Linked DNA regions of Homo sapiens. The protein of the gene in region 1 interacts with the protein of each later gene in a pairwise test. Each region holds a gene or a part of one and is shown in the gene's direction. Other genes may lie near its edges.

What was found. The genes of interacting proteins can lie anywhere in the genome.
Region 2: the proteins of PMP22 (region 1) and CD69 interact in binary tests that used the Homo sapiens proteins (3 or more experiments, as listed by UniProt).

The regions. Positions count from the first base shown.
Region 1 is NC_000017.11:15,234,327-15,239,103, reverse strand, and holds part of PMP22 (peripheral myelin protein 22), read left to right. Parts: intron 1-1,222; exon of another isoform or gene 1,223-1,319; intron 1,320-3,819; coding exon of another isoform or gene 3,820-3,857; exon of another isoform or gene 3,858-3,885; intron 3,886-4,777. UniProt on the Homo sapiens protein: Might be involved in growth regulation, and in myelinization in the peripheral nervous system.
Region 2 is NC_000012.12:9,754,338-9,759,067, reverse strand, and holds part of CD69 (early activation antigen CD69), read left to right. Parts: intron 1-2,648; coding exon 2,649-2,771; intron 2,772-3,806; coding exon 3,807-4,006; intron 4,007-4,377; coding exon 4,378-4,481; intron 4,482-4,730. UniProt on the Homo sapiens protein: Transmembrane protein expressed mainly on T-cells resident in mucosa that plays an essential role in immune cell homeostasis.

The DNA.
Region 1 (4,777 bases):
GTTTCTGTAGATTACATTATGCCTCCAGAAAATGGCCCTGATGTGCTAAGAACTAGCAAAGTAGTTATCAGGTATGTGTCTTCCACCAATAGGTAGTGATGAAGCCACACTGACAAATTCTCACCTTCCTTGCTTCCAGTTCCTAGATTCTACTGGGCTTTGATTGACTGTTGTCATCCTCTGGTGTCTTCATTTTGACACTCTTGTGTCACATATTGTCATTTCCAAACATGGGGCTATGACAACACATGAAAACACATGAGAGGTCTCCTTAATCTCCTGCCTAAACTGTCTTCAAGTTCCCTCTTTAAATACGTTATTAATATGCATAGTGTGCAGAGTCCTAGAAACTTCTGTTACACAGGGTGACATCTTCCAACTTTGTCTCTGGATTCTGCCTAGCATCTTACATGCTTACATCTTACATCTTACATCTTACATCTTGCATTCTGCCTAGCATCTTACATTAGCTCTTACATGTCTGTCTGTTGACTTACTGTTGACTGAACCAGCAGGGCATTGGAGAGAAGTAAGAGCTAGATGTAGTGGTGGATTCTGTGGTCCAAATTCATAGATCACAAACTTCATATGTACCAGAGTATGTCTAGGTACTGGGAGATGTTCTCAATTCTGACCCTCTGAGAGGGCAAAGGATGTAGCATCTCTTCTCTGAGTTGGTTGTCAGAATGCCCATGGTACCATTTCACCACTCTGTCCCCAGGAGCAGTCATTGGAAGGTTGACGTAAATAGGGTTGTATGGGAAGACACAGCCCAAGGTTAGATGTTGGTGACCTTGTCTAGAAGACAGAGAGTTCCCCTTTCCTGAAAAAAGGAAGTAAATGATTAACCACTTCTCATTAAACACTCAAATACAACATTTCAATACTCATGGTTTTGAGATTTCAAAACCAGACAGTGCTTTGCTACTTACACATGTCTTATGACACCAAGCCAAGCTCCTGGATGGTTGCTGGCTCTGTTAAATGACTAATTATGCAAGGAGATATCATTTCTAGGTACGTTAAAGTGAAGAGTTACCCTTACTCAATTTTCAGTTGGAATAAAAACAACTGTAACATATTCTGGGGTTTCTTTTTTTTTTTCTCACTCGTTTTAGTTTGATATCAAATCAAATAATGATCATATCCATTGCATCAGTGGATATGCCCTCAAGATAATATGGATTTAGAACCAGAACTTTCATAATGTATTTCTATTGAAATGTTAGTTTCATAAGCGATGATTGGGTTTTCATGCCCATGTGTGAGATGTGCCTCGCTCAAACCTTGTTATGATTTGGCACGTTACCCATCTGATGTGAAAAAAATTACATTTTATTTGTACAGGCTCGTTATTTTACTGATGAATAATTTGAGCCCACCAGAGGATAAATGAATGACCAAGGTCACCCAGCTCATGACAGGGACGGTTGAGTGTTACACTGAATATAGTGAGGTACTTCTTATATTTTAAAGACAGAATGCACCAAAAAATTTAAAGAACACAAAATCCAAGGCAGAAGCTCTGCCTTTTATATTATCTTTTATTGGAACTGATTTACAATGGAAGGTAAATGCAAATTTGCACCATGTATTATTCTGAAGTTCCAAACATCTGTGATGAATACAAGCCTGTACTATAAGACCCAGTCACATTGAAAATATGGAGCTGAGAAGAGGTAAGCTGCTGTTGAATGGGCTCCTTGGGATAGCCAGTACCTTCATCTTCATTCATCCTGCTGAGCTGTTTCGGCTTTAAGTTCTTTAACAATGTCTTTTTAGCAACATCATTACATCATTTTAGGCCAAAACTCAAAGTCCAGAGATAAGAACCCTTAAGTCACTCATGTAACTGCACTGTGTGTTAAAAGTATTTCAGTTCAGCCAAACACTCTTCTCCTAGGTATTGCGATTTAAGTATATTTACTAATCCACTCTTGCTTCACTATTTTCATTCTCCTCCAAAGTCAATACAAGATGTTTAGAACTGTGCTGGAAGTGCAGAATTCCGAATGTAAAAGCGCATGACTTTGTCCTCTTTATCCCCTTTACATCTAGCTGCTTACGTCTCATGAAACTGAATTTTCAGTTATCTGTTGGTCCACATTTGAATAAGAAATTATCTTGAATTTGAAATGCTGAGCTGTAATAGCAGTTGTAATTTGTAAGTCCTGAGAGTGTCCTGTCCTCCGTTGTTAATCCCAGTCAAGATCATCTGAGAGTTGGTCTCCAGGGAACCTCAGATCTCTAGGATGTTGCACTGGAAATGGCTGCAGGATCTTTCCACTAATTCTGAGAACTGAAAGAGTTAGGAACTCTATTTGGAGAGTTCCTGGTTCCCTTATCGTGTGACAGTTCTAAGTCAATTTTGTCATGTGGTTTTCTGACTCACAGACTAGTAAGAAGTTAGTAATTAGAGAGCTAAGTAGATTAGGGTTGTTGGAGATGAGAAACCCACGTTTTGGGAAAACCTGGCAAGTGACAACTTAACATCAAGGAAGTAGTCAGAAAAGCTAAAACTGACAAACAGAAGGTAGAAGAAAGTAGCTCCACACTCATGGGATGTGAAATCTACAAGCGTGCATGCCCGGCAAATGCCTCTCCAATGCACTGGAGCGTTTTAAGTGGAAACCACTAGAATCTCTGTGTAGTCTCCGGAAGTGGCTGTGAGGGCTGCATTATCTCTGCACAGCTTCCTCTTGGTGGGCCCAGCTGTGATCTTTATGGATGGCACACATCAGCTTTCAGGAAAAGCACATGAAAGGTGCTAGGGCTCTTGGAGCTGACTGTAGGTTTGGGAGTTGTCTGTCTCCTTGCTCTAGATTACAGCTCTGTGTGTTGTGTGGGGTCTCCATGGTTTGCCAAATTATCTCTTCCTCACTTAGCCACAAGGCTGACAGTTAGGAACTATCTCTTCTTGATTGCATTAGGTTGGCTGCTTCCTGAATGCATATCAAAAGGCTCCTTCCTTTAGTTCAGTGCTTTCAACCTGAGCTGTGCATCAGAATCACCTGAGGTCCTTTAAAAAAAAAAAAAAGACAGTGGGCGGGGCGCAGTGGCTCACGCCTGTAATCCCAGCACTTTGGGAGGCTGAGGTGGGCAGATCACTTGAGGTCAGGAGTTCAAGACCAGCCCGGCCAACATGGTGAAACCCTGTCTCTACTAAAAATAAAAATAAAAAAATAGCCAGGCGTGGTGGTGCGTGCCTGTAGTCCCAGCTACTTGGGAAACTGAGGCAGAGAAGAATCACTTGAACCTAGGAGGTGGAGGTTGCAGTGAGCCAAGATCATGCCACTGCACTCCAGCCTGGGGGTGACAGAGTAAGACTGTCTCAAAAAAAAAGAAAAAAGAAAAGAAAAAAGACAGTATTCAGGTCTCATCCCTGGAGACTCTCATTTAATAGTTGTGGGATGGATCCACTGCCTAGGTGACTCTGATGTGCATTTAGGGTTGGGAACCACTGACATAGCCATTAAACTGTCCCTAATCCCACTGTAAGGTTTTCTAGGATATTTTCCCAGAAATAACTAAACCACCTTCTTAGAGAAGGAACATCCTGATCCTGCGTCTGGACTTTGGAGTCATTCTTATTTTCAGAACCTATAGCCATCTATTCCTTGACAAGATCTGTTGGGTTGGGTTGCACTAGACTGGAAAACATCAAGAAATTAATCTAGACACAGACCTAAAAGGAAGATTTGCACGTTTTGATTTATTTTACTGCTTACACCCAGCATCAAGCTCCATGTGGGGCACATAGAGGAGCCTGAATAAAACTATTATTGGTTGGATGATTAGATAATTGTGTTTCCTCGGCAGAATCAAACTCAAGTCAAATGTGTGGTTACCGGGATTAAGAACAGAAAGAATAGAGGGGACTCCTGAGTGAGTTTCACTTTCTCTCTCTTTTTGTTATTGTTGTTCATTTGTTTTGTTAATAGAAAGATCAATATAGCTATAGAGCATTTAAAATAAAAGGATTTGGGCCAGGTGTGGTGGCGAATGCCTGTAATCCCAACACTTTGAAAGACTGAGGTGAGAGGATTGCTTAAAGCCAGGAGTTCAAGACCAGCCTGGGCAACAAAGCGAGATGCCATCTCTACAAAAAATGATTTAAAAATTAGTGGGGTGCCTTGGAGCACGCCTGTGGTCCCAGCTATTCAGGAGGCTGAGGCAGGAGGATTGCTTGAGGCTGAGAGGTCAAGACTACAGTGAACTATGATCAGGCCCCTGCACTTGCTCCAGCCTGGTGACAGAGTGAGACCCTGCCTCTCTAGGAAAAAAAAAAAAAGAATTTGGTGGGGGGGGATTAATAAAAGTTCAGTGCCATCCTGTTCAGAGTGATTCAAAGGTGGCTTAAGTCAAATACCACATTTAGAAATTTTTGTTAGGGACGGATGATTATGGATGTCTCACTGGCCATGCCCAAATCAGAGTCAATGCTATGGGTGGCTTTCTAGGCAGCAATGGTCATTTGGATACTGAAAATGTAAAAGGAGTGGGCTTCAATCACAGAAACACAGAGAAGTCTCTTGCTTTCAGAGGAACAGGCCTCACAGCCCCTTCCTGCCCTCCCTTGTTGCCCTGAGGATGAAGTGGGAGGGAGAAAAAGGCACCCACTCATCAACCCAACATCATAGCTGCACCTTCCAGTGACCACCCTGGTGGTCTCACTGACATCCCTTTCCAGCCAACTTCTCTCTGACTTCTGCCCCAGGCTCTCAAATGAAAGTGCTTTTGCGAGGTTACCAAAGTACACTTTGAAGTCTTTAATTTG
Region 2 (4,730 bases), on another chromosome or scaffold:
GTCCCAGCTACTTAGGAGGCTGAGGCAGGAGAATGGCGTGAACCCGGGAGGCGGAGCTTGCAGTGAGCCGAGATCACGCAACTGCACTCCAGCCTGGACGACAGAGCGAGACTCCGTCTCAAAAAATAAATAAATAAAACAGTAGCCCTCATTAATGGGAATAAAGTATCATCTGAGAGTCATCCCAAAGCTTACTCCCTCGTTGAGCCGATGGGCTGACTGAGACTCTGGAACCCACGGGTCACTGGGGTGTGTTAGTGCTCACTGAGGAGACAGAGCTGTTGCAATACTGAGTTCAAGCAGCACGACTGACTCACATAATGTGAAGTGAAACCAGACAGAGCTCCGAACTTGGTACCTTGGGTAGCAAAGGCGGCTTCCAATGATGATTCTATACCGGTGAACAAAGAAAAATTTGCTTTGAGAAGCTGAGAAAATCGAGCTAGACGGCAGTGAAGTAAAGGCTTCTCTTGCAAAATCTGAGTGCCGATCTGTGATGGGAAAAATAACTTCCAGATAAAGCAAAAGTTGATGTGGACACCAGTACCCAGTAAATTACTGTGAAAAAAAGGCAACTTCTCTTGGTCCAGTTTACCTTTAGATAAATGTTTTAAGGGTAAAAATATGTGTATTTCAAGATATGTCTTATGTAAACTTTTTTAAGTTATGAAAATCATCCATATTGAAAAATAGAATGTTTTCTATTTTGAAACTGTTTTGCATTGTCAGTTACTTAAGCAGCCATTTTACATTTTGGTTTTTGAGAACATAATAGGGACCTGTATACTCCTTGTGGGGCCGCATTTTAAGACTCCTGACAGCTCATCCTGCAAAATTAAAATCCAAAATCTAAGTCGCAAAATTCTCTTTTCTCCTTCCTCAGTTATTTACTTAGAGTGTAGAACAGACATCCTCTTAGAGTTTTTTGTAACTATCAGTTATCGTTAACATCATATTTTTATTCTAAATCCTTCCATAGAAACACTGCTTGTTGGGAAAAAAAAAGGCTTTTACTTTGTTTCACCATTGTACAGAGGGTAAATGAAATAACTTTCGCTGAATATTTGGTCTATAATACTGTTACATTTCCTCTATTATTTTAACATCTTTTGAAAAATTCAAATTTTTACTGTTCATTCACATATCATTTTAAATTGAGGTTTAGTTCACATACGATGAATGCACAGCTCGTAGGTATACAGTTTAACGACTTATGACAGTGGTATAACCACAAGACCAGCAACATTTGAATCTTTCCATCACCCTAGACAGTTTGCCCTGTGTCCCATTCCAGTTAAATTACCTTTCCTACACACACAAAGGCAACTACTGTTCTGATTTTTGACACCAGAGCTTAGACCAACTATTATTTAAAGTCATGTAAATGCAAATATGTAGTATACAATCTTCTGTGGCTGGATTTTTTTTCACTCAACATTTTTTTTGGAGATTCCTTCATTTTGTTGCATGTATCAGTTGTCTTATTTTGAATTGCTGAGCGGAATTCCCTTGTATGGATATACCATAATTTGTTCACTTATTTTCCTGTTGGTGGATATTTGGATTATTTCTGGAATTTGGCTCTTAAGAATAAAGCTGCTAGGAGCATTCTTGCACAAGGCATTTTGAGAACATATTTTCATTTTTCTTGAGGATATACATAGGAGTAGGTTTGTTGGGCCATAGAAAAGGCATATATTTAATTTTATAAGAAACAGTTTCCAAAGTGTTTTTCCAATTTACTCTCCCACCAATAATATCTGAAAATTCCAGTTGCTCCACATCTGCAGCAACTTCACCAAAAAATACTGTCACGTTTAAAATTTTGTTCAGTCATTTTAATGTCAGATATTTATATAGCAATTCAATATTTTACTTTATGATATTATCCATATTTATCCCATTCACATCATTTCTCTCAAACAGTAACTACAAGGAGATTAAGGAATTATGCTAGAATTTTTTATTTATTTATTTATTTATTTTTTTAGACAAGGTCTCACTCTGTCACTCAGGTTAGAGTGCAGTGGTGCAATCTCCGCTCACAGCAACCTCTGCCTCCCAGGCTAAAGCGATCCTCCCACTTCAGACTCCCAAGTAGCTGGGAACACAAGTGCGTGCCACCATGACCAGCTAATTTTTTGTATTTTTGGTGGAGACAGGGTTTCACCATGTTGCTCATGATGGTCTTGAACTCCTGAGCTCAGGTGATCAATCCACTCACCTCGGCCTCCCAAAATGCTGAGATTACAGGTGTGAGCCACCATGCCCTAGAATTTTTTTATGTGTCTTCTGGGGCATGTGCATATTTAATAAACGTTCTTATCATCATTAAAACAAACTGATTATATACTTAGAATTTTCATAGTTACTAAGTGTATAAATCATATGTGTCAGGTAAATATTTTGGGGAGACACTTTATAATCTCATCATTATGCTTGAATTGTTTCATTTCAAGCCAACAATAAACTATTCAAATTCACTCAAAATTGGGGGTAAATTAACTTAGAAATTTCTATAAAGAGACGGGGAAATTTCATATAATGAGATAGGAAATATTAAGTTTAAATGCCTCAAAAGAATGTTGCATATTCCTATAGTACTTCTATAGTCTGCCTGAACTCATCATCAACTTTCTCCCTTCCAGATGATGCCACCAGTCCCCATTTCTCAACACGTCATGAAGGGTCCTTCCAAGTTCCTGTCCTGTGTGCTGTAATGAATGTGGTCTTCATCACCATTTTAATCATAGCTCTCATTGCCTTATCAGGTGGGTCTACACTTCATCAATTCTTTCAAAGCCTCCTAGCTGTAAGCATTCATGCCCAGCTGAAATCAATATTAGTTTAGTCTAGTTAATCAGAAACTAGCTAATTCAGAATCATCCCATGTACCATATATGGCCAATTTCCTAATCAATACTAAACATAATTCCACAATCCTTGAATAATTAATGTAATACTTTTATAAGTATTAAAAGTATCTATGATTTATATATTACTGTAGAATAAAATTGCATTTGAAAAGATGTTTACATCTAGAATGAAGGGAGCTGATTTGAATTCTGAATAAATACCTATTTAGCTAGAAAAAAATGTGAACTTCACATTCATTGATTATGGAAAAAAATCGTATCTAAAGCCATAGATTAATCAGGAAGTGGCCAGTCTTTTGTGTTTTATCTCAAAGGACACAGAATGGTAGTTCTGAATAATTAAGATTATATTTAAAAGTTCCCAGAGAGTCAGTAGTGATTTGGTATTCAATACCTCCAGCTGTACCAAGATATATTTGTATCTTTTACAAATGGGAATGTTTACCATTGTTTTGAGATATTCTGAGTCATATGTCTTTCTGTATTTTGAATTGGTTCCCTAAAAGTTAGTTACTCTCTCCATCTTTCCAGCCTAGTGCTATAAATACTGCATCTTCAAATTCTTCCGCCTCTGCATTCAGATTCAAAACCTTATTTGAAATGTATAATGCACTTTATCCTTTCTAGTCCAAAGAAATATCTAGTCCAAATTTTCAGAATTGTTCTATATTTCTGTCATTTTCTGACATTATGACCAAAAGTACATCCCCTCATCCTCATATCTCCATCCAATGATGATTAGGCACAATGGAAGATCAGATATGGTCCTGAGAACTTTCTTTCTTCATACCCTTTTCAGAATTCTACTTTTTAGCTTTTATCCTTTACTTTATCACCACCTAGCACAACATAGCATCCTAAGGCTAGTTTTGCATGCTGTGGGTATTTGGTTTCTTTTGTTACTAAAACAAAGCATTTTTCTGTTCACAGTGGGCCAATACAATTGTCCAGGCCAATACACATTCTCAATGCCATCAGACAGCCATGTTTCTTCATGCTCTGAGGACTGGGTTGGCTACCAGAGGAAATGCTACTTTATTTCTACTGTGAAGAGGAGCTGGACTTCAGCCCAAAATGCTTGTTCTGAACATGGTGCTACTCTTGCTGTCATTGATTCTGAAAAGGACATGGTAAGAATAAAAAAAAGATAAAATACTACTATTTTAATTCATATGGCTAATCAGTGCTTTCCTTCCGTTTCTAAGTGGAGAAAACAAACAAACAAACAAACATTGTACCTATTTCAGATGTAGGAAAATGTCATCCCAGAGAACCATATGATCAGCCTGAGGTCAAAATGAGATTTAATTTAATCTTTTAAATTTGATTTGATTGCTTAGCTTCAAAGACCAGAAATCCAAATATGCTGATCCTATATAGAATGAGTACATGGTCAGATAAGCTGTCATGCCTCAAGTTGCAGCTTTTGAGAAACAGGATTTACTATCTACTTCCCCAGAAGGGTGTTTAATGTAACAAACTCCTTTGTGCTTTCTTTAAGAACTTTCTAAAACGATACGCAGGTAGAGAGGAACACTGGGTTGGACTGAAAAAGGAACCTGGTCACCCATGGAAGTGGTCAAATGGCAAAGAATTTAACAACTGGTAAGTCTCCAGAAGTCTCTTTATATTCCCCAGGGTGGCATCTCAGGAAAATCACTTTCCTTTTCTCCTTTCAAAGCACTTTAAATATAAAGGCTGAGCTCTTCAAGAGCTCTAACAATCTCTTCTGAATGCGTATACTCTGGAATTCTTTAATAACAGGCTTTATTATTATTCTTTTTCTTTATCCACACTTATAATACATAAAATAAATGCTTATAGTAATTTTTCTCAGCAAACTCTAATGTGAGT